Homo sapiens: one gene and its partners. The protein of the gene in region 2 interacts with the protein of the main gene of each other region in a biochemical or structural test. Each region holds a gene or a part of one and is shown on either strand. Other genes may lie near its edges. The genes, in order: RALGDS, RAP2A, RAPGEF4 and RASSF5.

Region 1 (7,912 bases), on a different chromosome or scaffold from region 2:
GTCCGACCAGGTTCCAGAGTCCCAAAACAGTTTATTCTGATAGTTTTCTTTCTTCCAGCTTAATCGTTGTTTCTGTGCAAAAACTGAACCCTGGGGCCTCCTACTCTGCCATCTTTTGTCACAAATGTTACTTTATTATTATTATTTTTTGAGACAGAGTCTCACACTGTTGCCCGGGCTGGAGGACAGTGGCGTGATCTCAGCTCCCTGCAACCTCCGCCTCCCAGGTTCAAGCGATTCTCTTGCGTCAGCCTCCCGAATAGCTGGGATTAAAGGTGCCTGGCACCATGCCTGGCTAATTTTTTTTATTTTTAGTAGAGATGGGGTTTCACCATGTTAGCCAGGATGGTCTCGATCTCCTGACCTCATGATCCACCTGCCTTGGCCTCCCAAAGTGCTGGGATTACAGGCATGAGCCACCACGCCTGGCCACAAATGTTACTTTTAAAGACAGCTAAATTTCAGAAATTCTTGCTATGCCTTGTGAAAGTACCTCCAAACTCTAGTCCCAGGAGTTCTGAGGGCTGTCTCAGCACATTTCCCAGTTTAATGGTGCCAAAAGGAACATCTGCTGTATGAAAGGTAAACTTTTGTGTTTCCTTCAGTGTGCTGAGAAGAGTGGCTGGCTTTTCCTGTGCATAAAATAACTGGATAACCCTGCAAGGGTCCTTACTTAAACACGGAATGTGAGAGTCTCTATCTCATTTTAATTAAGACAGGTAATGAAAGAACAAAACTGTAATGACCAGGGTATAGTAGAAACAGGATTTTAATATAATATTCAAGTCTAGCATTTGCTATTTACAACAAATAAATATTGCCCCTCCCCAATCAGTAAACAAACATTTTTTTTTTCTTTTTGCTTTTTATACAAATATTCAATCACCCCACCCCCACCCCAAATCCTCCTTCCTCACTAACCCCCGTCTTGCATGGTCTCGTAAAGCCCAGGACGCAGTGGTGAATGGCACTTGCAGTGGCATGAGATTCAACATCGATGGGACTCAGCTGGGACTGTCCTCACTCACCGGGTGCAGAGTCTGGTCCATGAAGAGGGTTTCTCTCTCTGCTCCCAGGGGAGGGCTGGGGTAAGCGGTGGGTGAGACTCCCTCACTCTCAGTTGGCCCTGATGATGGAATCTTTGGTGCAGCCTGAGAAAGGCTAGAGTGGTGGGAGGGGCCGGGACCCCTGCGAAGGTCACAGGCCAGTGCCTGTGGGCATGAGAGAACTGCAGTGGTCACAGTGGGTGCTCTGGGGTGCCCATGGGCACAGGTGGCAGTGACCCACACCTGGGAAGGTGTCAGGGAAGTGTACAGAGGTGGCGCCCGGGGGCAGGCAGGGCACCATGCCATGCCCGTTGGCACTGCTCCTTGGCAAAAGTCAGCTAGTCCTCTGGTTCCAGAGAGCAGAAGGCACCTAAGGCAGCGAGTGGTCCACGGGAGGCCAGGTCAGCCTGACCAATGGCAGGCGTCAATCCCAGCAGCGGGAGAGGTTCAGGATGAAACTGGAGTCTGGGGTACCCTGGGCTGGCAGGTGGGAGGAAGGCGCCCAGCTGGCCTGGGCCACTCTGGTCCATAAGTGCTTGGCTACCAGCCAGCCAGACCCTGGGAGGATGCCCTCAGAAGATGCCCTTGGCAATCTTGAGTCCTTTCTGCTTCATGCGAGGGAGGGTGGAGCTGGCTCCGTGCTTGACCTTCACTCCCTTGGTGAAGGTCCGCTTCTTGAGGACAAAGTCATAGTTGGCGGTAGAGTTCATGGCATAGAAGACGTTGGCGTTTTCAGGGATCTTCAGCTCTGGTGGGGAGGGGCAGAGGGGTGATCAGGGATGCTCCTGGGGGCCCTGCAGGATACCCCTACCGCTTGAGAGCCCATACAAGGACTGTCTTGAGCCACAGACCTCAGATCCCCTCCAATACAGCTCCAGAACTCCAAGGACCCCTCTCAATGACTCCTGCCTGAGGACAGACTCTGCTGAGGTCCTCACAAAACCTGATGACTCTTGTTTAAACAGGGACTGACTCCAGAACCCCCCGGCTTGGCCTGAGCTGGCAGAGGGTCACCCCGTCCTGCCCATACTGCAGTGCTGGCTGCCCACCTGGAACAGGCTTTCTAGAATCCAGGTCACCTCCCAGAATCCTGCCCTACTCAGGACAAGGGATCCAAGGACCAGGAAAGGACAGGCCTGCCCCAGGGCTCTGGCGCCCGTTCCAGGGAGGCCTGTACTCCTTGAACCCTGGCACCCGGCAAGCACTTCCTTTTGGCTCCATTTCCCACCATCTCCTCTGGCCCACAGCCTGCTATAAACCAGAGCTGGGCTCGATTTGTGCTCCTGCCGACATCGTGTGGCTTTTCGTCATCTTTAACCTCTCTAGGCCTCAGTCTTCCTTTTCTGTAAGATGGGGGTCCCGCCTACCCTGCCCACCTAACCGAAATGGTGCAAGAAGCTGCCAGAGGATTTAGACTGTAACTTCTAGGGATCACAGGAGTCATTGCTTACTGTCTGGGCTAATGGTGGGAGGTGGTGTTCAGCTCACTGGAAAGAAAACAGCGATGATAGTATTTATAGTTAACTTTTATGGTGCACATAGATGCTTTATATATACATGCATATATATACACACACATATACATGCATATATATACACACACATATACATGCATATATATACACATATATACATACATATACACATATATACATACATATAGATTTTTACATATATGATGAACACACTGGCTACTTTCATTTCCATTTGGGGGATGAGAAGACAAGCACAGAGGGCTTAAGGAGCTTGCCCAGCGTCTCCAGGCCCAGGATACCCCACTCTGAGCCTGCACTGGTTCTTGACACTTTCCCAGTTTCTAGAATACTGAGTTGGCCTCCTAGTAGCCTGTTCTGCTTTTAGAATCACACACTCATGGATTTTAACACTTGACACTTTGGTCCACAGCTGTCACCATTCTTTGTAGAGCACATGTTTTCTTGTCTTAGCCAGAAAGAGTCCCTTCCAGTGGGCCACGTGGCTAACCTGTCCCAGTGAAAAATGCCTTTTCTCTTTGCTCCTCACTGATGTGAGCTTTGAACTGCCTGTTCACGCCTAGGGAAGGGCACACACTGGGGAGGTCCAGTGGTTGCTGGGGACAGCAAGCAGACAATGGGGGCAGCCAGGGCTGCCCTGTCCACAGTGTCTACCCACACTCTGCTGGTGAATTTTCTGGGGCCAAAGGCTTCCAACCTGGGGCTGGGGAGTGGTGTGGACCTGCCCCCTCTGCCATCGCCCTCTGGTCTTCTGACTTACTCCGGTCATCTGAGAGAATCTGCAGCAGCTCATAGTCCTCCGGCTCCTCCTCCTCCAGGTTGTGTTTGTCCATGGCCTTGCGGATTACAGCCGGAGCCTTATCTTGGCTGGTCACCTGCATCGCGGCGGGGGATGGACCATCAGGGAAAAGACCCTGGAGCGGCTCCCCCAGAGTGCAGTGGCCAAGGACCCTCTGGAGTCCCCTCAGCACCAAGCACAGGCACTCACAGCCTCTGGCCAGGTGCTGGGTCCGGAGAGGGCCTTGTCACATTCTCCTACTCCCCAAGTGAGGCCTCCGTCCTTCTGTTCCCCATGTGAGGCCTCCATGGAATGAGGAGGGGTCTGTCCCAGCAGTGCCTACCCTGCTTCTCCTGTAAGAGACTGTTCCCTCCTCCCACACTTCCTTGAGAAGCACTTGCCCCTCCAGGATAACAGCATCACTGAGCCTGGGGAACAGACAGTCCCTAGTCCAAGCCCTGGAGGTAAGAAAGGAGGGGCCGGCCAGGATGCTCAGTGTGGTCAGCATAGGCCAGGCCCCTGCTACCTTGACCCTGAGGGCCAGAGCACAGGCGGAACTCGGACATAGGGCCACAGGTGACTGCTTAATGACAACCATGCTAGCTCCTGGCAATGAGGGGTCAGGAGCGTGTGTGAATAATGGGGCACCTGACCCAGGGCTGGGGTACAGAGGGTGGGGGTTACAAATGGTTCATCTGTCGCAGGACACCTGGAGGATGAAGAAAGAGCCCCCAGGCAAACCCATTCTGTGAGCAATTCCCATCTGCTGTCTCCAAATCCTGTCTAGACTCTGACCCTGCTGGCCCCTTCCAGGGCTCCCAGCCTGGTTGCCACAGCGGCCTCCTAACCAACACCCCTGCGGCTCTGGTACCAGCCCACACCAGACAGAGAAGCCAGCCATCATTGCTCCTGTCTTCCTCCCCGAGAAAGTCGAGGTCCTGGCAGGGCTCAGGGCCTATGTGGCCAGGCCCTGGATACTTCCCTGACCTCACCTCCCCTACAGCACCGCCCCTTCAGCTCCTGGGGGCTTTGCACGGCTGCTCCTTTCCTCCCCCTCTGCCCTCAGGCCAGCCTTGTCCCTGATCACTACCTTCTTCATTTCTGTACCTGGCTGACATCTGTCCTTCCCCGCCAACTACAAGGTAGACCCCGGGAGGGCAGGGATGGTGCACTGTGTTCAGGGTGCATTTGCCGCCAGTGGAGGGAGGCACCCAGGCCACCCCCGCCGGCTTACCAGGATGCTCTTGTACATGTTGCCATTGTCCACGTCCAGGCTGACGCGGATGATACAGCAGTCGCCCACCTGCTGGTTGTAGAGCGGCAGCGCGGAGCTGGAGTTGCAGAGCCCTGAGACAGAGCGCTTGTGGGTGCGTGTGGCAGCCACGGGCGTGGTGGAGGCTGAGGAGGACGAGGTGCTGCTGGAGGCTGAGCTGATGCCGGAGGTCTCCGGGGATGACTGTGAGGCTGATTCCCAGAACTGAGGGAGACGGTAAGATCAGCAGATCCCACTGCCCTGTGGGGGCACCCCAGGCCAGCTGCCAGATGGGGAACCTTCTAGAAGCTGTGTTCAGGATCCAGGGCTTCCTGGCCCCATGCATGGATTTGGAGTGGGGAGATGGGAAAGGATATTGGGGAGAAGGGCAGGCAGTCACCTTCTTTTCCTGGCCATCAGGAGACTCCGGGACGAAGCTGATGTTGATCTCCTCCACGTCGGAGCTAGAGGAGCCGGCCGAGTGCACGCTGAGCGCGTCAGCGATGTCCCCGCTGCTGAGGTAGGGGCCACACCTGAGCTGGTCACAGGACTTGGAGTGGGAGCTGCCACTGGTACTGAGCTCAGTGCTGGGGGCCTGGCGGCTGGGTGAAGAGTTGGCTTAGTTAAGGGGGCTCCCCAAGGACACATCCCAACCCCACAGCCCCTGCACCCTGCGCCCAAGGACTGTGCAAAGTGCTGGGACAGTTGCCAGTACTCCATTCACCACAGCCATCTGGGAGAGCATTTAGTATCACCCCATTTCACAGAGGAGGAAACTGAGGCCCAAAAAGGTGAGGGGACTCATCCCAGTCTCAGGGCCAGTCAGCAGCAGGGTAGGATTCCAGGGCCAGCCTCCCTGACTCCCTGAGCCCAGGCTCAGCCCTGAAGCTTCTGAGCCCCAAGGCAGCTGCCCCTACCACCCTTGGCCAGGCCCTTACTCGCTCCAGCGCTTGACAATGGCTGTGTTCTTCTTGGTCCTGAGGGTGTTGCTGGCTGACTCGGATGGGGGCTCCAGCTCGCACGACAGGTTGTAGCTATGAGCAGAGGGGCAGTGGTGTGACAACCAGGGGCCATGCTCCGGCCTTCCCCCAGCACCTGCCCAGAAGCTGGAGTCGGGGTGCCCCGGCCATCCTCAGGCAACAGGGGCTGAGGCTGACCATGGGTCATAGCTGCTGGCCCTCTGGAGCTGGCCCCCTAGGACAGCCTGCCCCCACTGTCCCCATTTGCTGCCCCGGCCTCACCTCTCAGTCTCGCTGAGCCGCTCCACGGCCCGGAACCAGGCCCCAAATTGCTCATCTGGCGCGATGCTGTAGTTGTTGCAGGCCGACTGCAGCAGCTTGATCTGGGCGATCACCTCGAACTCCTGGGGCCAGAGGGAAGCACAGGGCGGTGACAAGGCCCCCCGGGCAGCACAGGGGCCAGTCTCTGGGTCTTTGTTCTTGGGGTCCCTTCCTCCCCTCTACTCCCATCCAGGCCTTCCTGTTCTCAAAGTTGGGCTCAGCCACTCCCCAGGAGGTGGTCCTGGATTATAACCTCCTACCCTCACCCTCCAGTGGGAGGGGACCCCCTTCTCTCTGTGTCCAAATGTCCCATGTCCCATGAATCTAAGGAGAGGGTAGGAGTTGAAATGTCCTACCCTGGTGGGTCTGTTTTCCACCCCTCCCCAAGTCAGGGCTGCCTGCAGCTGCTTACCTTCCTCCTCTTCTCAAAGTTGATGAGTCTGCCCTGGAAGGTGGACACCCAATGGCCGTCAGAAAGTGACCCCTTGACCATTACAGTCTCCCCACCTCATGCTGCACTATCAAGAGTGCCCACCAGGGGGCAGGGCACGCACACCCCTGGATTGAAGCCGGTGCTGGGCACCAGGGCAAGGGGACATGCGGGCAGAGGCTTGGGGACTTCTTGTCCAGCACTCTCGGAGGACAATGGACTGAGGCCTTGGGTGAGAAGGCCCTGCTCAGCCACCACGTGCCGCCTGACCGCTGAGGGCCTGGCTTCCCTCTGTGCTCAGGGTCACTGCCTGAGGGATGGGCTGTGTCCCACTCAGCCAAACCCTGCTGCAGCTCTGTGTTTGGGCAGCCCTGGGGTGTCACCAGCAGGGCACTGAGCTGTTTACTCATTGCTGGGACAGGTGTGGCAGCCCAGCCCCCAGGGCTCAGGGAAGGTCTCTCCTCCCGGGCCCTACTCCAGCCCCGCCCGGCACACTCACATACAGATAGTCCTTCATGGCAGTGTCCAGCATCACCAGGTCGGTGAGGAACGTGCCCAGGTAGGGAACGGTGCCCTGGATGATGCCCTGTGACATTGGGGTAGGAGGATGAGCAAGGCCCCTCCCCTGAAGGCTTTCTCAGCCCCCAGCCCCAACTGGTCTCACTTGGAACAGCTGGGGGACCTCTGGGGGCCTCCTGGGGCCCACTGTCTCCCTGGACCCCAGACTCCCTCTAGCCATCTCCCTGGCTGGCATCTGGGAAATGCCAGGTTCCCAAGTCGTGTGGCCCCTGGCCCTCCCCAGCCCCACACCCGCCTGAGCCGGCTCTGCCAGGCCTGTCCTTTCGTGGCTGCAGCTGGTCTTCCCAGATACCAGCTGATCCAGGTGTGGCTCTGCTAGGGTCCAGAGGAGGCTACCTCTAATGGGGCCCATAGGCACCGTGGCTAGAGAGGAAAGGGCCCTCCTCCCTACCCCCAGGCCAGCCCCCTGCCCCTCCGCGGCCTTGGGCACTCTCACCGTCTCCTTCGGCCGTTTCTGGGCTCTCTTGGGGTTCATCTCCAGGGTGGCAAACTTGGAGGTGCCCTCCTGCCAGGGTAGAGGACAGGGTCAGCAAGGCCCTATCCCCTCAGCCCTCAGGCACCCTGACCTGGGGTGCTGCCAGTGTGGTCGGGTTCCAGGGCTGACCCTGTATCAATACTCACTAGTGTGGGGTCCTGGGCCGGTGGCCTGGCCTTCCTGAGCCTGCCTCCCCCTCTGGAAAGTGCGGATGAGAACTCCGCCTGCTGCATGGTGCGGTGGCTCACGCCTGTAATCCCAGCATTTTGGAAGGCCAAGGCAGGTGGATCACTTGAGGTCAGGAGTTTAAGACCAGCCTGGCCAACACAGTGAAACCCCATCTCTACTAAAAAATACAAAAATTACCTGGGTTGGTGGTGCACACCTATAATCCCAGCTACTTGGGAAGCTGAGGCAGGAGAATCCCTTGAACCCAGGAGGTGGGGATTGCAGTGAGCCGAGATCACGCCATTGCACTCCAGCCTGGGAGACAGAGCGAGACTCCTTCTCTAAACAAATAAAAAAACTCCACCTGCCTCGCAGGGCCTCAGAGACTCTGCGCTACAGTCCTGTTATGGC
Region 2 (7,912 bases):
TTCATAAAGAGGTCTACTGTCATTATTAACTTTTTTAAAAAGAGAAGTGTTAACAAATACTAATATGCTGATTGCTTTTTATGTCACATATTAATATTTAAAATATGTGTACTAAAAATCATCACAATTCCTCATGAGTCAAAAAATTTACCGCCACCATTTATAGCCAATATATTTAGGTCTCTAGGGGAAGGCAAAAACACAAAGCACTCAAGGTCTATGCTATAAGTTCTATAACGTAGTGTTAGAGCACTTAAAACACAGAGGAGAAAGCAATGGGAAAAACAGAAATGTTATACTATACTAGGTATATAATTCATCTCAATATAGTAAGACAATTGAGCCTAATTCCTAAGAAGTCACGTGGCAGTATACAGATAAAAGGCTGGGTTTCATTCCTATTTCTGTGATTCTTGGTGAAACTTTATTATTAATATTTTAGGTTCACTATGTAAAGAAACACTTTACGTTCGTTATCTCACGAGTTACTACATCATACTCATATTACAAATGAGGAAATTAAAATGCAAGGAATGTCAACTTGCTCCTAATTACATAACTAATAAGTGCTGGATCTCAGCTTTAATGAGATTAACATTCGCTGTCTTCATGGATGAGAAGATAAGTATATACAATAAAATACTCCATTCGAGAATTATAATACATACAGTATTCATAATGTTCATTGGAAACCTAAAGATGAATTAATTTAGGACCAGGGGCAGTGGCTCAGGCCTGTAATCCCAGTGCTTTGGGCAGTTGAGGTAGTCGGAACACTTGAGGCCAGGAGTTTGAGACCAGCCTGGGCAAAATAACAAGATCCCATCTCTAGAAAAAATTTTTAAAGAATTACTTGGATGCGGTGGTGCCTGCTCTGTAGTCCTAGCTATTCAGATGGCTGAGGCAGAAGGGTTGCTTGAGCCCAGGAGTTAGAGGCTGCAGTAAGCTCTGATGGCGCCGCTGCACTCCAGCCTGGGCAACAGAACAAGACCCTGTCTCTTAAAATACTCTAAGATTTCATTTACAGAGAGAGAGCTGTAAAGATACTTAGTAGAGAAAATACTAATATGCATTGAATTATTAATATAGTATTTCCACATTTGAATTATTAATTTCTAAGGGTCAGGAAAGCATGAGAACACTCCTAAATGTTTTAAATAAAGGTTTTTCAATGTTTCTCTTGGGTAACTTTACTAAGTGATTTTAAGATATTTATAGTTTTACTGTCTTACAGGGAGAGGTGAATCAGTGTTATCCTGGATAGATGCAGCAGACCTCTATTTTGAGTTTTCTGAACCTCCTCAGCAACTGTTCTTGAAATAGATAATCCCGCACTCATGTATTCAAGTCTGAATACTACCACAACCTCCCTTTCTCTGTTCTAAGTTTTCACAAGGCAAAAGTTATCTTGAATTACTAGAATGAACAACATTACATGAGAAATACATTCTCATATTTCTAATATGCACAACAGAGATAAATGCTTTCTCAAAAGATATGCTATATCTTTTTGTTCAGTGACTAAATGCTATCTTTCTCTGAATTACAGGTAGTATTTACTAACTCACATTGGGAAGTACTTCATTTTCGTAATCTTACACAGCATTGCTGGGAACCAGAAAAGCAGGAGAGAGAAGATGAAATATTAAACAGATAGTTACATTTAGTTTTCTTAGAGTAAAAATGTCCTAGGATAGCAGTTTCCAAGCTATGTGTGATAAAATCAATTTGGTGGGTCATGAAAAGCACTTAAAAACAACGAAATAAAATAGAAAAAAATAAATAGAAAAAGTAATACAAGCAACATAGCAAGTTTACTGTCTTATGAAATGTTGATTTCGGCTAGATGTATTTATTCCTATGTGTGCACTAAGTCACAATATAAAATGTACTTCTTACTGAGGGCCCTGGTTAAGAAAATGTGAAATCCCCTGCTGAGTGGATCTATAAAAATAGAGATAGTTATTAATTTTTTCCAATATTTGGCTTTTTGACAGATAACAATTTAAAAATAAAAATTATAAGTCACCTTATTTCTCCCTAAATATAAATTTTGGTATGTTTTAAAATCTTAAATGTATTAGAGAAATAAAAAACAAAAACAAATCCCCATCTATACAATTATGCCAGAGAAAGAATTTAATACATACCATGACAAAATCTTAGCTAGATTATGTATTAGAATCTTCAAATATTGTTTTTAGTTATTTTGATTACTTTAAATTTTACTAATATATTTATGCTTTATTTAACATACTTGACTGAAATGCAGATGTCCACAATTACAGCATTACTATTATTGATATTACTCTACTAAAAGGCTGAGTTTGATCTGGTAAAGCAGAAAGGATGTTTAAGAAATTAAACTTCTCTCTGTCAGGCTGAGAATAATTTTTAATGATATGAACCACAAGTGTCAAAGTAACAAATGAAATGGCAATATATAATATATGGCATATTTCTGCACACCATTAAAATTTCAAGATAAATTTCCTACATAAACACAATATCTATACATTTCCTTTAGTAACTATTCAGTCACCATCAGTTTTACCTTGTTTGAAAGTCTGCTCGTATTCAAACTCTTATTACTCCAAAAAAACTTAGAGTACTTAAAACTCTTTTTACAACATAGGCCTGAAAAATATAAGTGTGTAAAAAAACAGTAGGTAAGAATAGATGGAGAGAAACAGAAAACAGGGAAAAATCAAAACAGAAGCAAAGAAAACCCCAGAGTAAGGCATACATGCTCCCCTAGGCAGTAAGGTTCTAAAGACAATGACTAAAAGAGAACTGAAAAGAAAAAAATACCCCTGAAAAAAAATTCCCTTAAGTACAGTGTACTTGGTTTTATGTAAAGATCCTTGCTTAAAAATATGTACATATACATGCATAATATATGCACCTTATTGTGCCATATGTAATTTCCCAGAACTTCACACACAGAAATTAAATCACTCAAGTATATTGCTACTGAAACTTTAGCAAATAGATTCCAACTTTGTTGGCTCTTCCTGTTGGCTGTGAAATCCAGTGATTTTTCTTAGTTCCTCTACCTCTTCCTTAATGTTTAATAATTTAAATTATTTTTGCCCTCCATTAAAAAATAAGTATTAGTATAATTATTCCTTATTGTAGATTTTATTGATACAATTATCAAATCTTAACTAGACAAAATTGTGGGTCACAGGCTGCTGATTCTTTAAGGTTCATATTAAACTTGACCCCTTCCCTCATCACCCCGGCCAGACAAAAGTGCTCTCACAGAATGTTAGAGAGGAAGAGACATCATCTCCTCCAACTCCAAATTGAGCTTTAAAAATTACAATCCTGGAGTGGCAAAAAGAAAACTATATACTGTAACCTGTAATTTTACAATGCAGCCAAAACAAAAGTTTCCTTTTCAGGAAAAACTTCTGGGCCACATAAAGTGATTCACTGTATGAAGTTCAGTTATGCAAGATAAGTAAGTCCCAGACATCTGTATGGTAATAGTACTTCTAGTTAACAATACTGTATTGTATAAACATTTGCTAAGAAGACAGAACTTATGTTGTGTTCTTACTACAAAAAAAATGAATGAATGAATGAATGAATGGATAGATAAATAAAGCAGGGGGAAACTTTTGGAGGTGATGGATAGTTTTACAGCATTGATTGTGGTGATTTCACAAGTGTATGCTTATCTCTAAACTCACTGAGTTGTACACATTAAATATGTCTGGCTTTTTGTACATCAATCATACCTCAATAAAGTGGTTTTTAAAGAAAAAAAGATCATGAAAAACACTGAGCTCTTCGAGTCATTTTCAAAACAAATTTCAATTTTTTGACCATTTAAATCCCTCTCATGAAAGATGAAGTGAGCACTCATAACTATTTCCCTCCTCTCATCCTGACTTACTAGTTATATTGTTTGTTTCATATTGTCAGTCTTTTTAACTTTAATATTCTGTTTGGCAGCCATAATTCTCACAATTCTTTTATCTTAGTTTTGTATTTAAGTGGATAGAGGTTTCACCATCAGTCCTTATCTTCATACCCAAATTCTTTGTTTGGATTTATGTCTGACTTTCAGGATTTAGTCATCAATTCTTCATGTTATATATATTTATTATTAAAAATTTTTCCTACTAATTCACCAGTACCAAAACAAAACAAAAAAAAAGTGACCCACAGCTATTAGGCTCTGTACCTGGGAGGTCCAGCTTTGAATTAAGTTTTGGTACTGGGGAAGCAGGTATTTTTAGAGGGAAAAACGGTAGCAGAGCTCCAGAAGTTTCACTTACTTGGGACAGACATCTTTTGATGTATACTCTCGTTTCGGCTCTCCAGCACCAAACTGTCATGGGCCAAAGATCTATGTGTAACAATTGGTAATATGCTTCTGTTTTAGAGTAGGCTTTAATAGCTACTTATGGTAAGGGGGAAAGTGTAAACAATCAGCCAGCTCACTTGAAAGTGACCACTTAAGTGATATAGAAAATTAATAATAATCTTAAAAAAAAACAACTTACTCACCTTGGGTAGTGCTAGTCAACTATCTTTTTCCCAATCTTAAAACACCCCACGCCTTCTCGCCTACTGCAATATAGGAAGTCTCCACTGTGTATCTTACAACTCTCGAGTTCTATCCTTGGCTATATTCATTCATTCCTCATTTCTATTGTTAGCCATATCCATTCATTTCTGTCTCTATACTCTACCCAGTAGGTTTCATCTACTCTCCCAATCTGAACTACGCAGATGATCCTGAGTCTTCATATTCATACATAACCTGACCTTTCAGGCTTTATTCAAATGTTCTAATTACTTATTAGGCTGGCTATCTGGATAATTACCATCTCCAAAACTGAAAATAATCTCCCCCAGCTATTCCTCCATAATCCTATTTGTTCATTTCAAAATGTCAAGGTTACTTCTGACCTTTTCCTCTTCCTCTACCACTGAGTTTGATTACTTCATTCTTTACAACATTCCTTGCATCCTTTCTCTCCTGTTACTACAGACACCATGCTAATTCAGGATTTTCACACTTCACGTAAAAACTGGATTATCACAACATTTATGACTATTCTTCCTGTTATGAAACAGAGTAGTCTATTACCACTAAGACATCTACCATATCACTACATATTGCTATACCTATGACAATTGTGATTATGGTCCTTGACTACATGATCAACTCCTAAGTCTTTAACCTTCAGTAATTTAGCTTTAAAAATTTTCACCTTACCTCCCCTCACACTTCTATATACATTCCCCATTTGGCCAGTCTGCTCTATTTAACATCCAAAAAACATATTCTATGCATTTCCTGTGCCATTTCCTCCATCTGGAATACATCATGTTTCTGATTCTTTGAGGTTCGTATTAAACACTGCCCCAACTGGAAGTGTTCTCACAGAAAGTTCGAGCTGAAGGAAGATCATCTCCATCTGCAAAATGAACTTTAAAAGATCATCTCCTCCATCTATGAAATCAAAATGTTTAGGGAAACTGAGGCCAAACAACAATACAAATACTTTTCTTTCTGAACATTCATTTTTTCAACATTTTTTCTTGTTTCCTATGTGCTAGTAGGAGCTGTGTCACCTACGTGGGCTTGGAGTTTTGTGAGAAAGGCTGGCTACCCATAAATTATCACACAAATAATTAAATTTGGATGAGTGCTTCAAAGAAAAGGGAAAGGACAGGGTATGTGTGATTGAGCAAAGAGGTGAGGCATAAAGTTTAGTAAGGGAAGACAGGAAAGGGGTTACTTTGGTTTGAGAGGACATCTTCCCTCAGTGGGGAAAAATCTTTTAACTCATCTATGCCTAGTGTTCCATTATTGGAACACTAAGCTTGTGGGAGTTATTTATATCCTACTGTTCAAGGTCATTGCTAAGGTCTGATATTTCACAAAAAACATTTGCAACCTCCGGTATAAATGGGTTAAGCAGGGGTGAGGGTGAAAGACGGAGTAGGAATTAACTCTGCAAAAAGGTAGATTTCCACAGGCCAAAGGAGAGCCCAGAGAAAGGTACTTTCAAGGACTTAAGGTCTGGGTGCTAGAATAAAAGGATGGGTGCAAGAGGTGAGGCTGCACAGGCAGGGAGGGATAAGAGCAAGCTGGACTGTGAAAGGTCATGTTGAAGATTTCTGGACTTTTTCCTAACAGCAAAGAGGCCTTGTATATCATGTTCCAAGAACTTCATGTCAGGACCATGGCTGATCCTGGCATGGGTAACAATGAAAAAAGCAATTACAAAATCAGAAAAAAATTCTAGTTTTATTTCAACTGAAAAACATTTCCTATATCCCTGTTACTCTTCTTTGTGTGTGTCATCTCACCCAAAATCAAGTTAAGAAAAGAAAGCATATGAATTTACAAATATAGCCATTTTCAGTTGGTCCACTTGGCTTTGACAAGAGGTCATGTATGTATACGGAGGTATGTACACTTACAGACACTTAAGGGAGTATGGGTCAGTTTCACATTTCTTAAAAGTGAAACATTTCAAGTAATAGCAATCCTTGAAAATGACTGCTATTATTTGAAATGAAAATGAAAAATGAAAAGCTCCATTCGTTGTTTGGCTATGCATTAGTGCTATGCATTATTGCTATACTGTACTTGAAGTTAAATGTTCATTCTCATGCCCTTTTCCATCAGATCCTTCATAAGGGGAAATAATTTCAAGAGAATACCAACACAATTCTTCCAAGGATTATTTTAACCTCATTGCTTTTTAGTCTCATCTTGAATATACTAAGTAATGAATTCCAAAATGCAATTACAAATTTATTTCTTCTAAAATTACATTTATATCAAGGGTAACATTTAAGGAAGATAAATGACAAAGTTATTAAAGTAAGAATGACAGCTAGAATTTTTTGAGCAATTTCTGTGTACTGGTATTGTTTTGGGAATGTTAAAATACATTATCTCATTTAATTCTAACAAGGACTCTGGAAGGTGCATGCTAATCTCTATTTCACAGATAAGGAAACTGAAGCTTAGAGAAATAAGCAAGCATTTCCCCAAATCATATACACCTTAGACCTCTGTTGTCCAATATGGCAGCCTGTGGCCACATACGGCTACTGAGCACTTGAAATGTGACTTGTTTGAATTGAGATGTGGTAGGTCAAACACATACCAAACTTTGAAGACACAGTATAAAGAAGTAAAGTACCTTATTAATAATTTTTGAATACTGACATGTCAAAATGATTCTATTTTAAATATGGTGGGTTAAATAAAATACATTAAAATTAATTCCATATATTTATGTTATTTTTAAAAAATCAGCTACTAGGAATGTTAAAATTACATATGTGGCTCACGTTATATCTCTATTGAAAAGTGCTGACCTAGACCTAAAGCTGAATACTGAATTTGACAGTAGATATCAAATACTGAAAGACTGGTAAAGAAGAGGCCACCTGCATTCACATGTCCTCTCCATCAATGATGGGAAGCCAGACGCTGGGGTTAGGATGAGGTGTAAAATACCTTACTACTACCATATTACAAAGACACACAAGTGAGGGTCCAAGAGGTTCTTATGTATACAACGGTTGAATTCTGGTGAAGAGAATTTATGAACTCTACTTCAGCTGATCAATGATCTTTTTATATCAAGAACTGAGACTAGTGAGTAAAATGATACTGGGCATGCAGAATTTTACTCTATGTTTTTCCTCTGGGTCATAGTGAAAATAAACAAATTGCTCCAATATGCTGAGTTTAGACTAACCTATTATTATAACTGAGAAAAGTAATCTGCACTAAATTACAAGAAACTACAAAATTATGTGGACCATATTATCCAATAATATTTTGCCATATTTGTTCCCTAGGCTTGTGTCAAGAAGTTAGCCATGGGTATGTGGCTTTATCAGTGTATATGTGCATCTTCATATC
Region 3 (7,461 bases), on a different chromosome or scaffold from region 2:
TAGAGAAGTGAAAAAACAACTTAAAAGTAAATTAGCAGGGAAGTTATCATAGTTACTATTTATTTCACGGCTCCATATATCAAGGGCTAATTATACATTGTACGTTACATTTTCTGGGAGGGATTTGTGATATGTTTCTCATGCTGATCAACAGATGGATGTGTCAGTTTTCACGATCTTTGATGAAGTGAAGTTCTAACTTTTCCAATTGCCTCTTTGTGTGCGAAATTATCCAATGCAGGTACATGTCACTTCAGGCTTGCTAGAGTCCTCAAAGCAGTAGTATTCAGTGAGGTATTATGATGCTTGCAGATAATATATTTGTAAGGCCTTGACTCATCTATGATTTTTTTTTACACTATGTAAGCTTTCTCAAAGTCATTTTCTTATACTTTGGCAAGCCAAGGGTCCGTGAGAGAAGAAAGGGTTGACTAGAATTACATAGCTGCTCAGAGATCGGGGAGTCTCTTTCCCTGGGTGGAGCCTTATCAATTTTCTGCTAGTGTTGTAATTAATCTATTATCTCCACAGGACCCCCTTTAGAGCCTGAGCAGTAAAGTGTCCTGAAACATACATAGTGACCAGGAGTGCCAGCTATTGTTCAAATACCGTGACATTCTGGCTAAGAAATGGAGCGTAGGTCTCATCAGTGTTTTTCCCCAGGGGATAGGAGTCTCTGTTTCTGTCCATTTTCTTTTCTCTTTTCTTTTGTTTTTAATTGAGCTCAGCACAAAAGATTCCCTTTTAAGTCTTTATTGCAACCAAAACTTTACAAAGAAGTTAAGATGATCACTTAGTGACCAAATTTTAAAAGGTCAAATCAATTATAATCTGTCCATTTGGTTGAATACATGCTTTTTAAAAAATGTTTTAAAATGCAAATGGCATGGAAAATAGTCACAATGCAATGTGAAAAATTTCAAATCAAAATAAAATATGTATGTACTATATGAATTCAAATCTTTTAAAAACATGTTTTTATATATTTTTAAATATAAGAAGGCTATATGCCGAAATATTAACAAGATTACTCTGTGAAGTAATATTCTAAGTGATTTTTACTTTGCTCTTAACATTTTCTGTATTTTCTGAATTTCTTTTTTTTTTTTTCTTGAGACGGAGTCTCACTCTGTCGCCCAGGCTGGAGTGCAGTGGCGCGATCTCGGCTCACTGCAAGCTCCACCTCCCAGGTTCACGCCATTCTCCTGCCTCAGCCTCCCAAGTAGCTGGGACTACAGGCGCCTGCCACCACGCCCGGCTAATTTTTTGTATTTTTAGTAGAGAGGGGGTTTCACCGTGTTAGCCAGGATGGTCTCGATCTCCTGACCTCGTGATCCACCCGCCTCGGCCTCCCAAAGTGCTGGGATTACAGGCGTGAGCCACTGCACCTGGCCTGTTTTCTGAATTTCTAAGATGTGTATATGTTAGTGTTATAATCAGAAAGGAGGAAGAAGGGAGGGAAGGAGGGAATCAAATCATCAGGATTAACATTAAAATGCAAACTTTTGCTGGAAGATTAGAGAGGTCAGTAATACAGAGTGTGTAGCAAAAATGTGAAGGTAGAATATTTTGACTTGCTGTTCAGCCAATAAAATCTCATACCTCATTAGTGAGTCTTATTTACTGTGAGGAACTTGATAAGCTAACCCTTCTCCACATCTAGGATAGTTACAGATTCTCTTACAAATTCATGGCAACCTCAAGAAAGGATGGTGAAAAAGCACTAATGTACAGTCTCAGGCATGATAGATGTTTTTTACATCATGGGGAATATGCCAACAATTATGAGAGTTATGCCATTAATATTCCTTACCTGAAAATGCCTTGTATGTATGTGGGTACCCCTTTGAAATAATTAAACAAGTTATACATCAGCTAGTTGCCTTCAGATAGTCAACATCTCAGAACATGTCACTTCTCATGGTACCAAGTATTGCAGAAATGGTTTGTTTTCCTTTTTGGATTGTACTCTACGCTTACTTGAATTTCTATCTTTCTTTTTTCTATATTCCTTTTAGCGCATGATTGCAAATACGGCCAGAACAGTGAGATACTACAGGAGCCAACCCTTCAGTAAGTTAAGTGCTGCCACCTCTTACAATGTAGATGTTGGTGATTAAGGTCTTCTTAATGAGGCCATTGAGACACCCTTGGAGCCTGGGAAATATCTGACTGTGTCAGAGACACTTTGGACCATGAATTCCATGAGATAGGGGCCTTGAGTTTAAAGATTTTTTTTGCTGTTTTAAACTAGAACATATTTACATTGTTGTGAAACTAGAAAATCACCATAGGAATATTATTTTGTGAATGAATTTAAAGAGATTTAATTTGCTCTATCCAGTGCAGCTGGAGACAACTAAAGTACGACTGCCAACAAATCCTGCCTCAAACCAACTCTCTTTATGACTCATTGCTCCATGTTGAGAAACTCACATCAGCCCTTGATGACTCAGTTCAGTCAATTATAAACCAGGAAAGATAATATTTATTGTCTTTCAGGGTGTTGCAAGAATGCATTAATGTTTATAGCACATTCGTAAAAGGTCCAAAAACAGGATTTCATATTATATTTCTAGTATTCCCACATGAATTTGAGGTGCTCTTTTAAAATCTGAACATCTATCACAAGAACTGGTATAATACTTTAATATAAAAAAATTACTAATAATAAATAACAATTTTAGTCTGTTGGGAGTTAAGTTGCATCATAGCACCAGATGGTCATACTAGACCAGTGCTACTGTTTCTTCTGGGCTGGGACTTTGGTGGTGGGGGTGGAGCTTTGGCTCCCTCAATCTGGTCTGGAAATGAGAAGGTGAACACTAAAGGTTTTTGCTAAGCTCATTGTATGACTCACTTGAAGAAATTTATCTCATTAACTCAATATGATACTATGACATAGACATGAATCTGAGGCTACCAGTACCGTCTCCTCCAATAAACCGAGTGCTAAGAGACTATGATGTTCTTGTTTTATTAGTCAGAGTTGTTTGTTCTTCCTAGAGCAGGACTGGCTCATGGCCAGATTTGCTAACATGGGACACCAGAACTACTAAATGTTCATTTTTTAATGAATAGGGAGGAAAAATATAAGAAAAATGACATTGATTTGGGGAGCAACTGATTCAAATGACTGTGCCTTCTCTGACTTCCAAAATGTGAATAGTCTTGCAATATCATCAACTATTCTTATGTGGATTCAGCCAGAATTAAAGTGTCTCATGTGTTTTCATCTATTAATTTACGTTGTGTTTAAAGATGTGATCATAAAGCAGTTGTACAAGTGGAAACAAGAATAGATAAGTGACACCAGTTACAACCGGAGTTTATAATCCCAAATCCAGCAGCGGGGATAAAAGGGGACCCTGAAATTATATGCCAAATCGTGTGTGCCTGAGGGGGTTTATAGCCTTAAGAAGGTTTTCAGTGAGGCTCAAGAACCATAAAATAATATGCTTTGTTTTATGAGCTTCTTTGGAAGTAAATCTTGCATTCTTCTATGTCACCTCCTAGAGAAGCCAAGGGGAAAATGTATTTAAAAAGAAAAAACTCCACTGCATTTGTTGAAGTTATCAGTAACTGCTGGTAAACAACAGCTGCTCAGCTCTGAAGTCAACAATCTATAGATAAAGCTATAGGAATAGATTCACAAACACTGTGGGAATGTGTACAATGTAATTACAGTATATTGTACGTGTAGAGTACACTGCCAGTGAGAAGCAGAGGAAATTAAACACAATGTGCTCTGCAGTTCGCTGTGGTATTATTTCTATGTGATAATTATACTGATGAGTTTCTTCTCACAGGGGGCAGGGGCATGTATGTCTTCTCTCTGCTTTTCTGCCTTCAGACCTGCAACACTCCCCTTCACCCCTTGTGCAGATGGCATTCTAATTGTCTTTGGGAGTGCTGTGTGGATCTAGCAGGAGCAACCAGACTGCAGAAGGCAGTGTACTGTGGTGGAAACCCCGGTCAGGAGCCAGGGTCTGGCTCTGCCACTCCGGGTGTCCCCTTAGACCAGAGGCCCTACCCAGTGATGCTTGAAATGGAGGTGGCCCACAGAGGTGTTGGGTCTAAAGAGAGCATTTTTTTCCCTTTTATTTTGAAATAATGTCACCATTTTAAAATTGGGAGAATTCACGAAGAAGAAATCCAGATTTCCCATTTCTTAACAAAAAAAAAAAAAAAAAAGGAAGATCTGGCAACTCTAGGCACAGATTCCCCGTGGCAGCAACATGCAGAAGCCAGGTCATCACTTCCAGAGGGACCTGTGTTTCCAGTTCACCACCTTCTGGTCTGGCTTTCCTTATTCATGTATGTTCCCTGCGAGGGCTGAGTGCATTGGCTCATCATTCAGCCCTGATCTTCATTAAATTGGTTAACCTCAGTTGCTCACATGCTTGGGATGTGCATCAGAATAGAATGGTAGCTGAGTTTTCAGAGCAGATAGCATTAAAGAATCAAACGTCTAGCAGAAGTCATAACTTCAGCCTGTGAGTTGGGTTTTTTCTGAATATGGACAGTCTCTAAGAACATACAGTCGGTATAGTAATGCTGTATACTGTGTGCAAGTAAAGAGGGGAGTCAGGACTCTGTAGTCTCACTGGCTTGCTTCAGTTTGGCCCAGATGTTAAGCGCTTTTGTGAGGGGCTAATAAAAACTGTCTTTTGACATTAGTCTTCATCTGGATCAAAGGAGGCAGAGACACAGAGTGTGAGACACAGAGACCTCTGGAAAGGGAAACAATTTTAATCTATACCCAGGGGCTATCAGACACATGCTTCCCTTTTAATTTGGTGCCATTTTTTTTTTACAACGTGCAATTCAAAGGAGAATGATCAAAAGAGGTGATTCCAGGGAAGAAAAGAAAATTGGAGGGTAGGAAGGAGGAGATGGAACAACCAAGTGGAAACGTTTCAATGATTGTGGTGTGTTGAAAGGTCTTGAGGGAACCCAGGAACCTATGATAAATGTAATAAATAATTGGAGAAGTAAGATTGTATCTTATATACATATATTACACAATGCCAATTCTGCCCTTTCCTCTTTCAACAGATCCTGATGCAGCTCAAGCTAATAAGAACCATCAGGATGTCCGGAGTTATGTACGGCAATTAAATGTGATTGACAACCAGAGAACTTTATCACAGATGTCACACAGATTAGAGCCTCGTCGACCATAGACATTTCAAATGCCCAAAGCAACAGTTTGTCTCCAGTCCACAATCTTTCAAAAATGCCATTTATGCTACTACTGACTGTATTGCCACTAGAGAATTCTACAAAACAAGCAAAAACACATCCTGAGACACCTCAGGGCTGCATTCAGCTTACCAGCTACCTAGCAAGAGAAGGAATTATTTGACATGCCTAAAGCTTACACACTCTAGCTTAGGAATCCCCAGTTTGTGGCTACCCTGTTTCATTTCCACTTGTGCCATCTTCTTTGCTGAAGTGTTGAATAAGGCCCACGTGAAGAGTTTGGTAGAAATAGCCTTGTCAAGAGAACTAGCAAGCCCCTGACATTTTTTTCTAAGAGTGTTTATGGGATGAGATGTGCTACAAATGGGATAGATTTGGATAAAATTTTAACTCAACATCTTGATTTGGAGCCTGGGGTTTCGGGAAGGTGTTGAGGAATCTATAGAAGTCCAAATTATAGGTTGTATTCTTCCATCTTCATTGTCTTACCTCTGAAGGAATAGAACCTGACCACATTATTATGAAACATTATGGCTGTTTATGTAATTTAGGGAGGACTGGTCTGTAATTTCTGAATGTATATAGAATAATATTTATGTTTACAATGTAACTTTTCAAAATTTACAAATCAGGATTATATACATAAGAATTCCACTAAGAAATGCCAAGATTCTTAAATTTGCCAGCGTTAAAGTAGAAAATAACATTTCAGAAGAGCACAATATGCATAAAACATTTTTCAAAATTGAAATATTTTCCTGGGCATTAAAAACCTTTACTATTGGCTACAAATTTATTGTACCTGATGAAAACATATTTTCTGGACTTAAATGTTATTACAAATATCTTAATTTTCAGTAATTGTTTTGCACTTTCAAAGATTGTAAATAGTTCATTCAATCAATGGTATGGAGTTATTTATTTGCTACATAATAGATACTGTGCCAAATAATTACTTTTTATTTATTTTATTTAGTACGTAATTTTGAAGTACATTTTTTCCTGTTTTCACAATTAGACTACATTTAATGTGTAGGAATTGTATGTATGTATATCTTCTGTAAATAACATCTAGTATCTTCACTAAATATAATTGTCGACAAGAAATGGTTGTGTTCATCTCAATTCCTATAATATGAAAGGGGTAACCATTTGGTATGGTGGGGTGTTGGATCTTTTAATGACACAAAATACACATATTATAAAATTCATTCTTTTAAAGTGCAGAATCCAGTGATTTTTAGTATATTTACAAAGTTGTATAGATAACCATCATCACTATCTAACTTCAGAACATTCTCCTCATCCCTAAAAGAAACTCTGAACTCATTAGCAGTCACTTCTTCTTCTCCTCTCCCTCCAACCTCTGGCAACCACGAATCTGCTTTCTTTGTCTTCAGATTTACTCTGGATGTTTCATATGAGTGGAATCATACAGTATGAGGCCTTTTGCGTCTGGTTTCTTTCACTTAGCATAATGTTTTCAAGGTTGACCATATTATAGCTTGTACCAGTACTTCATTTATTTTTATGGCCATGTAATATTCCATTCTATAAATAGACTACATTTTGTTTATCCATTTATCAGTTGACAGACATTTGTCTGTTGTGTTCACTTTTCGGCAATTAGGAGCATTGCTGCTCTGAAGGGGCACTGGATTTTAGAGCTCCCTTGTGTGGGGCCTCATGCCATTTCTCAGTGATTTAAGTACTTAGCAAATATTTGATGAAGAGATATCCAAAATTCTTTAAATTCCAGACATGCCTCTATTTTTTTTAATAAGTCAGCATTTTCCAGAGTGTGTTCCAGCCTATTCTAGTCTCACAAGTTCACATATTGTCCCTCCAAAAACAAACACACACATACAAAGCCAAAAACAAAACCAAGATTCTATCTTCAAATAAATGTGGGGACCACTGCATAATATACCCCATTCATAGAAATGATTCCCAGTATTCACTCACACTGAAGGCTCTGAGAAGTCCTATTGTAATCCCTTTTAACATCCCACAATTAAAGTCCACTTTCAGAAATGCCAAAGCAGGCAAATGCCTCTCTGTGTTCATTCATATAAAATTTCAGGGTCCCCAGAACCAGAGGCGGTGTTTTCTGCGGTATTACACCTGCCTCTGGAGGCAAGTGCAGTGTCTGGGATTTACTAGACAATAAAAGAAGGTCACTGAATAAATTTTCTTGAAATCATTATCGTTCAGTATTTCACTATCTGATAGACCTCAATGTCAGCTGCAAAGGTT
Region 4 (8,394 bases), on a different chromosome or scaffold from region 2:
TCTGAGTGGATATGAGTCCAGACTGTGATACCTGTTTGGGCCAGTCACATGACTTCTCTGAGCCTTGATTTTCTCACCTGTAAAACAGGAATGCCAGCCATTTCACAGAGTTGCCATGAAGATGAAATCATTCAAGCCAAAAGTGCCTGCCGCATAATAGATGCTCAATGTATGTTTCTTGAGCAGATACATGTAACTTATGGCACTTTACAAGGGATTTCTCTCACAAACACATTTTGATCCTCCAACAACATTTTGTCATGGTCCCTGCTCTCAGTCTAGTAATGTAAAATATTACTGACCCCCATCACACATTGCAAGCAGCACTCACTTCTTTGGAAAGCTGAGCTCTGCATGCAACATGCTGCCCAAGAAGGAAAGGAAGCAGCACTGGAGACCTGTGTTTCATAGCTAACCAAGATAAGGGCATTTTTTTCCAAATGTCTGTGGAGGGGGTCACACCATTTTAACTATTTACTGCTGTAACCCCATTTTTAAAGTGTAGTCTGTGAGCCATCTGAATCAAAGTCTCTTGCAAAATCCCGGCCAAAATCCAGACATACTGAATCAGAGGGTCAGGTCCCAGAATAGGCATTTTGAACAAACTCAGGTTCATAAAGCTTGAAAAGTTTTTGGGGCTGTTGTGCCTGTTGTTCTCTTAGTCTGGGACACTCTTGTCCAGATTGACAAAGGGCTTGCTTCATTCAGATCTGCTTAAATGTCTGCTCCTCAGAAAGGTCTTTCCTGACTACTCAATCTAATAGAGTAGCCTCTATCACCTTCATCCCCTTAATGTGCTTGATTTTTCATCAAAGTGCTTACAACCTGATATCATATTACTCTTGTGTCTGTTTATTGTCTGGCTCTTTCACTAAATGCAAGCTTCATGAACATATCCATTTCACTGTTGTACCTTTAGTGCCTAGAACAGTGCTTGATACATAGTGGATATCAGAGAATTACTCATTAAATGAATGAATAACTGCTCTATGCCCTTGAAGATTGCACTGGCCATTAGCGCTGATTGCCAAATATTTCCAGCCCTTTCCCCTTCTGAGCACAAGGTAGAATTTTACATCTGCTCCTGTTTGTAGAGTGGGGTCATATGACTAGTTCTGGCCAATAAGCTGTGAGCAAAAGTGACTGGAGCTTTTAAATGCTGATGTGGGATCCTCCAGGCTCTCTCAATCTCCCTTTGGCACAGTGACTGGCAATATTAGACATGGTGAGTCTGATGAGAAGAGAGCACCTGCCAACCTGCAAAAGGCATGTAATGTGAGCGAGAAAGGAGTCTGTTATTTCAGGGCACTCAGCTGTGGAGCTTATTACTACAGCATAACCTAACTTGTCCTGACTCTTACAGTGATTCCATGTAGACAGTTGTGCAACTGTCAGAATCCCTGGGAGTTCCCTGAAAGCTTCGGGGATTTCAGGCGACTTCAGACGCCTCAAAGTCAAACAAAACCAAAAATGTCCCCTTCAGGAAGTCAGGCCATGTTCTGTCCTTCCGTTTTCCTTCTTACTAGGGAACTTGGGGAGGGAGGCTGGGCGGCAGCAGTTAAACAACTCACCCAATGGGAAAACCAGCACGCTCTGGGACCACCTCTGAAGTGATCTCACACCCTGACCACACACTCTAAACTCACTGTCATAATCCTTCCCCTTGGTCAAAAATAAAAGCAGCACACCCACTCTGCTGGGAGTGAGTCACAAACAGAAAAAAGTCAATGGGTCTGAGCCAAGAGGATCTACTAACAAGGGGAAAGATCTCCCAGTGGAGGTGTTTCAGCGGATGCTGCGGTCTTACCCTTGTAGCCTGGATGACCAGACAGATCAAAAAAAATGTTAAAGTCCAGGCATCTGACACTACCCCAGCAATGTCCTGAGCTTATAATGAGACTAGAGTTTCTTTAGCACTTCTTCCCTGGGGAAGAAGGAATACTCTGCTGTTCATGTGGGGTGTGTGTGTGTGTGTGTGTGTGTGTGTGTGTGCATGGGAGCAAGAAAGAAGTCTATGTGTGTGTCGTGGGTTGGTGGGGAAATGCTATTTCAAGGAAGAAGGGGACTGGGCTGGGAAAACTGGCATCAGAGGAGACATGCCCCAGCCAGGGAGCCTCACATTGAGGTTAAGAAGGGCAACTGCCCGCCCCAACTCTAATTTCTTGGCTCAAGGAGATGAACTTTAAGATAAACTTTATGATAAATTTTTTGATTGGTTACATGGAGTTATATGATTAATATCTCCATTTTCATCTCTTTTCCCACCCCAGAAGCCAAATATAGGGCTCTGGCCCTGCACAATCTCCTCCCACATTCATGCTAAGAGCAGCCACTGCCACTCCACCAAATCAGAGCTGCAGGAGGAAAACAAAAACTAGAGCATTTTTCTGTACAGCCCAGACAACTGGGGAAGAGTTTTATGCCTGATGGTTTCAGATAGCCCTCAGTTTCCCGTGGCCAGAGATGACGCTCCTCCTCATGAGTCTCTCTATCCAGGAAATCTGGGCTGGGCTGCCCAAACCATGCTTTGAGGCTGCAGGGAAGGACAGAGATGGAGACTGTTAGCAATTATTTCACAAATGGCTTTTCAAAGCCGATCTTCCAGGGATGCACTTGTTGTCAGATCCCTGCTGCTTCTTGCCCCACCAGGCTGTCACTCAGAGCTCAAGCTGTTTCCATGCCCAGGACCTCACCCACCCACTGCACTCCAGGAAGGGGATGAGTCTCAAGTGTGTGGAGATGGGTAACAGAGTGTGGACACAGCAAATATTTATATGGAATACAGATTTCTGCAACAACCCCAAGAGAACTGCTTGCAGAAAAAGTGGGAGATTAAAATAAGAGACCACAAGGGCAAATTGTATTTTCCCTTTTACACCTTCAGCAGAAAGTATTCAGGAATAGCCCTCATTGGGCTTTTATCTGTCAGGTCCACTGAAGTACACTTGTCCTGGGGAGAAGGAACAGAGAAGCCCATTCTCAGAATCACCACCTCAGACCTAGAGCAATGGTTTTCCAAGTTGGGTCCCTGGATCAATAGCATCAACACCTGGGAACTTGCTCAAAATGAGCCATCTCAAACCCCAGCCCCAGACCTATAGATTCTGAAACTTTGGGGATGAAGCCCAATAATCTTAACAAGCCCTCCAGATGACTGTGATGCATACCAAGGTTTGAAAACCACTGATGTAGCAAAAGCAAGGTTAGGAGAGGGAAGAGGAAAGGTAGAGGAGGGGTGGGGCAGAGGCGGTGGCCTGTGGCTTACACCCCTCATCGGAGCTCCTCTGTTTGGTAGCACTGTGGGGTTGACTGTCCCATGGGTCATTCCTCAGAAACCACCTCATAGGGTGAGCTCCCGCCTCTGGTGAGCCCCCAGAGCCCCAGGAACCTCTCTTCTGCTACAGATTTGGGAGGCAGAGGACTATGATTACCGTGAGGGAGAAGCCATGGAGCAAAGCTGGCTGGGAATTCCCTGGCCACTGGACTCTGGAAATCTTAGGAATTACCTAAAAATTACCTCCAAGGGAAAAACAAAAAGCAAAAGTGAAGATTCCCCTACGAAGCACTAGGGGGAGACCCATCTCTGGCCTGGGAAGAGAAGGGAGAGACCAGGTCCAGAAGAATTTAGACTATTCTTCTAAAAAATGACCACCGCTAGACGGACCAAACCGAACCTGTGTTTTAAGAGGAAAGCTGTGATCACTGAGTCATAATGACGGAGCTGGAGAGTGCCACGTTAACAACCACCTGTCTCCCCACCTCCAGCCCAATGTACAGTTAACAATACTGGGGCTAGAGAGGGCCAGGGCCCAGGCCCAGGTTCAGAGATCCAGGAGTCCTCCTTATCCATAAGATGGGCCTGTTTCCATGGGCAAAGGTGCCTGTCAGGAACAACTACATAATTTGTGGGAACCAGTGCAAAAAGAAAACGCCTGGCCCTTTGTTCAAAAAGTAAGACTTTCAAGATGGTGACCGCAGAGCGTTAAACCAGACAAGGGTCCATGAAGGCTTGAAGCAAGCCTTCACGGGGGAAAGTGCCGGGAGAAAGGAGATCTCTCTTTGGGTCCCATGAGTGAACCATCCATACCAGGTTCCACTTAGGGCATTTAGGGGAACTGGTATCTCCACAGTAATTACTAGAGCAGCTCTGGGGAACGGAGGGTTGGCTAAGGAAGAAAAGCTCCCCCAACCCTTGGGGCGAGGGAGCGTTCTCTCAATGGAGCCCCCCCAACTCCCCTCCACCCCCCACCAGTCTTCCAGGAAAGAGGAATACCCTACCCGGCAGGGCTGCGAAGGAAGGGGAAATCCAACCAGAGCGAAAGTCGCACGCGGACAGCTCTGCCAGCCCTTGGAGGCATCCGGCGGTCACCCACGGGACAAAGCGCGGCTGCGGGAGCGCGCGCGGGGCATTCCGGACCCGCGTCGAGCTCCGCTCTAGAGGGGGCGGCGGGCGGCGACAAGCCGGAGAGAGGAAGGGCCAAGGAGCACGGCCCTCCTGTCGGCACCATCAGCGGGAGAGTGGCGAGCGGACGCCTAGACGGAGGGGCCCTACTCAGACCCCATCGAGCCAGTTCCCAAGCTTTTCCCTCCGACCTGCTCCCTCCCGGGGCGCGTGAGGGTGCGGGTCGGGGGTGAACCTGGTGTTGGGGAAAGTGATTGGCAAGGGAAAGAGGCAGGGCTGAAGGCCTAGGGCCCCCCGCAGAAATGCGCCCTCTGAGCTGTACTGTACAGAGGCGCTCCTCTGCGGAATCCTGCAGCTGCTCCAGGTGAAGACGCCCCCAAATCCACACTCGCGCAGACGTCGCCTGGCACGGACCCTACCCCCTTCGGTCCGTCGGCGGTTCTCTTGGGTCGTCCTTCCTGCCACTCCGACTCTCCCCGCCCCCGCCCCGCCCAGCAGGCTGCGGTTCCTTTAAAGGCGCGCTGGTGTGGGGCGGCCCCTTCTCTCGGGGCTGGCTCGGGAGTAGCGCAGTCGCCAAAGCCGCCGCTGCCAAAGCTGCCGCCACTAGCCGGGCATGGCCATGGCGTCCCCGGCCATCGGGCAGCGCCCGTACCCGCTACTATTGGACCCCGAGCCGCCGCGCTATCTACAGAGCCTGAGCGGCCCCGAGCTACCGCCGCCGCCCCCCGACCGGTCCTCGCGCCTCTGTGTCCCGGCGCCCCTCTCCACTGCGCCCGGGGCGCGCGAGGGGCGCAGCGCCCGGAGGGCTGCCCGGGGGAACCTGGAGCCCCCGCCCCGGGCCTCCCGACCCGCTCGCCCGCTCCGGCCTGGTCTGCAGCAGAGACTGCGGCGGCGGCCTGGAGCGCCCCGACCCCGCGACGTGCGGAGCATCTTCGAGCAGCCGCAGGATCCCAGAGTCCCGGCGGAGCGAGGCGAGGGGCACTGCTTCGCCGAGTTGGTGCTGCCGGGCGGCCCCGGCTGGTGTGACCTGTGCGGACGAGAGGTGCTGCGGCAGGCGCTGCGCTGCACTAGTAAGTGTGAAGGCAGGGGAGGGGCGTGCGGGGAGACCGCAGTCTGGGGGCGAAGGACTGGGAGGGCCCTGGGGCAGGGAGAGAGGGGCCATTACACTCTTTGGCTCCAGGGGAGCCCCGAACATAAGGAGATAACAACCCCTGGGGACAGTCCGCTCCTTAGTTCCCTGCCCGGTATCCTTTAGTGCCTGCCCACTACCTAGGTATGGTTATGCGGTAGTTAACAGATACCTGTCTCCTGACAGGTGCGTGCCTTGGCCCTCCACACACACACACACACACACACACACACACACTCGCACACAGGTTGTGGGGGGTGGGTGGGTGATGGCCTCGGCGGCCTCTGTCATCTCCCTGTGCACCCTCATGGTTTTGTTGTGAGTTCTTGGGAGTGGGTTGTGAGACTGCTGTTGAGATGACCGTTTGACCCTTGCTTATTAGGGTTACTGACAAAACGCTTGTTTGTCCGCCCATGGTACAGGCTCAGACCTCTCCTCCAGGGGGACGTATTGGGACAGGGAGGAGACCTTGTTAGATTTTGGATAAAGGCAGGCTGTGAGGCTGAAGAGAGCCTGAAGTCACCCTGAACCCGTGCCCCCTCCTGCCTTTCACCTCTGGCCCCTCAAACCTTTGGACTCTGCTCCAATGTTTGGCTGTGCCCTGCCTCCTCCCCTTCCTCCTCCTGGGTTCCTGCCCTAGTCGTCATGCTCTAACATTACTCAGCTCCTGACAGGGTCCCTTCCTCTCCACAGCCCTCAGGCCCCTCCAGTCACCTCCTGAGCCAGGCGCTTCTCAAAGCCAGAAAACACTGGGCCCCCAGTGTATAGATTTTCTGAGCCAATCTTCAGTCTCCTTGGGGGTTTATTATTTTTCTCCTCCTACAGTTAGGGGTGTGTATGCCTTTAATAGGTGTCCACCCTCCACCCCCACCCCGGCATTTGCTCTTGCGTGTTTATCAGAGGATATCCACAGCCATGTGTTCATGTGTTTACATGGATATTTCAAATATCTGAAGCCCAAAGCACAGACAATGGCACAGCCTCTAACAAGCATCTCTGGAAATGGATTGTGGTTTGCATCTTTCAGCAAAGGCCCTTCCCCTATGGCAGCAGCCTCACGTCTCCCATCCAACTGCAGCGTTGGACAGCAGCAGTGATTTCCACATCAGGAAAACCCTACCCTTTTTCTGCCTGCAGTCTGCAGCGGAGGCTGTTCAATGTGCTGCCCGCTGCAGCTGGCTGCAGGGAAATAGAACTCAGACACTAAGCCTGGGTCAAGTGGAAGGGAAAGATTGGAAGGGCAAGTGGGTGCTGCTCTTTCCTCCACCAGAACCCCCAGTTCAGGTGCTAATTAAGAAGGAAGGAGTAAAGGTTTGTAGAGGTACATGTTGTGGGTAGAGGGGCTGCTGTCCCTTGGTAAATGCCTTTGACTACAGTAGAATCAAATGCAACTTATCCTTGGATGTGTTGGCAGCTTTTGCACTTTCAAGATTCCCTTACTGCATCCAACAACCCTACACACAGGGAGAGAGGCAGGAGCCTCACTGAAATGGGTTTTATCATAGCTGGAATCCCAGGAAATCTGCTTCGTTGGCATTCTAGTTTGTAGTTAGACTTTGGGGGACTGTATCACTTGTTGAAGATTTTGCACATAGTTTTGTGATTTTCTTTTTTTTTTTTGGTTTGGTGATAATGGTGCGTTTGTGTGTATTTGCGTGTGCCTGTGTGTGATACTCCATGACTAAATGAATTGATCCTTACGTCACATCAGAATTGTCGATCTCCTTTGATTAAGTCATACGTCGTTTCTAGTGGCAGGAAGATCTAGGCCCCCGGGCAGTACCTCTGACTTTGTGTGTGACTTGGTGAGGTCTTTTTACTTTCCTGGGCGCTCATGGTCCCCCACAGAGTTGGTTTAATGCTAACGATGTCTGAACACTGGAGAGAAAGCAAAACTGGAATCGAGGGGCTACAGAAAGGAGTCTCTGTTTGTCATGATTAATATTTAACTAATTGTGAACCTATGGCTGGATGGCAAAAGTTGAGAAATGTTCTGATGTGCAGATGAGGGCTGGCAGGTGGAGACACAGCAGGCCAAACTCGCTGAGCATCTTTCTTTAAGTTGAAGGTCTGATTCCATGGTGAGGTTGCTTTGTTTTATCTTCATTTTGAAAAGCAAGTGTCAGAAATAGGACTTTAAAAAAAATCATACTATGCAGTAGTTAAGAGTACAGACTGGAACCAGAGCCCTGGGTTTGAATCCTGACTACCACTTAGTCCCCACGTGAGTCCTGGACATCTCTGTGTTCTGCTTCTTTGTTTAAAAAAAATAGGATAATGATATTACCTACTTCATCATGTTAATCTGAGAATTAAATGGATTAATATACATAAGGCACTCAGAACAGGGCCTAGCAAAATGCAATACGAATGTTTAATTCGATATGATTGTTATTGTCCCCTCCCATCTAACAGCTGTAACAACTAGTCTGGGCTTGTGACACCTCCTAGGATTACCTTTCGAAGCAGTGAGTACAATTTGCGAACTCTGCCTGGTTGCTGAGCTAAGTGGGGAAGTGACTGCCATAGACATCCCAGAAAATTTGGGTATTAGGTGTCCTCTAGAAATGCCACTCCTACCTGATGTCCTGCTGTGGCTGAGGAGACCCTTCTTTGCCTGGCATAGGGGCCACGAAGCCATTGGCTCCTTGTCTTTGTGTTTCTTGCACCCAGCAGAGTGCCAGGCCCAGAGCAGGGTCTCACTATGTGGTGAGTGATGAAAGTGATGGCTTGTTTGTGCTATTAAATATCCCAGCCCTTGGAAACAAGCAGGAGGGCAGTGGGTATGTGAGTGACATCTGTCTGCCCAGGAGACTGACACTGGGTGGGAACCATGTTGGCAGAAGGGCACTTTAGTAAGGAA

The links.
Region 1: the proteins of RAP2A (region 2) and RALGDS form a complex in vitro, tested with the Homo sapiens proteins (2 studies listed by BioGRID).
Region 3: of the proteins of RAP2A (region 2) and RAPGEF4, one has a biochemical effect on the other in vitro, tested with the Homo sapiens proteins (one study listed by BioGRID).
Region 4: the proteins of RAP2A (region 2) and RASSF5 form a complex in vitro, tested with the Homo sapiens proteins (one study listed by BioGRID).

Annotation. Positions count from the first base shown.
Region 1 is NC_000009.12:133,096,969-133,104,880, forward strand, and holds the end of RALGDS (ral guanine nucleotide dissociation stimulator), read right to left. Parts: intron 7,364-7,912; coding exon 7,295-7,363; intron 6,866-7,294; coding exon 6,779-6,865; intron 6,295-6,778; coding exon 6,262-6,294; intron 5,933-6,261; coding exon 5,811-5,932; intron 5,604-5,810; coding exon 5,508-5,603; intron 5,172-5,507; coding exon 4,970-5,171; intron 4,795-4,969; coding exon 4,552-4,794; intron 3,415-4,551; coding exon 3,300-3,414; intron 1,795-3,299; coding exon 1,619-1,794; 3' UTR 754-1,618; downstream 1-753. UniProt on the Homo sapiens protein: Functions as a guanine nucleotide exchange factor (GEF) activating either RalA or RalB GTPases and plays an important role in intracellular transport. Interacts and acts as an effector molecule for R-Ras, H-Ras, K-Ras, and Rap.
Region 2 is NC_000013.11:97,436,493-97,444,404, reverse strand, and holds part of RAP2A (ras-related protein Rap-2a), read right to left. Parts: intron 1-7,912. UniProt on the Homo sapiens protein: Small GTP-binding protein which cycles between a GDP-bound inactive and a GTP-bound active form. In its active form interacts with and regulates several effectors including MAP4K4, MINK1 and TNIK.
Region 3 is NC_000002.12:173,046,582-173,054,042, forward strand, and holds the end of RAPGEF4 (rap guanine nucleotide exchange factor 4), read left to right. Parts: intron 1-2,018; coding exon 2,019-2,073; intron 2,074-5,058; coding exon 5,059-5,186; 3' UTR 5,187-6,312; downstream 6,313-7,461.
Region 4 is NC_000001.11:206,502,588-206,510,981, forward strand, and holds the start of RASSF5 (ras association domain-containing protein 5), read left to right. Parts: upstream 1-4,943; 5' UTR 4,944-5,015; coding exon 5,016-5,472; intron 5,473-8,394. UniProt on the Homo sapiens protein: Potential tumor suppressor. Seems to be involved in lymphocyte adhesion by linking RAP1A activation upon T-cell receptor or chemokine stimulation to integrin activation.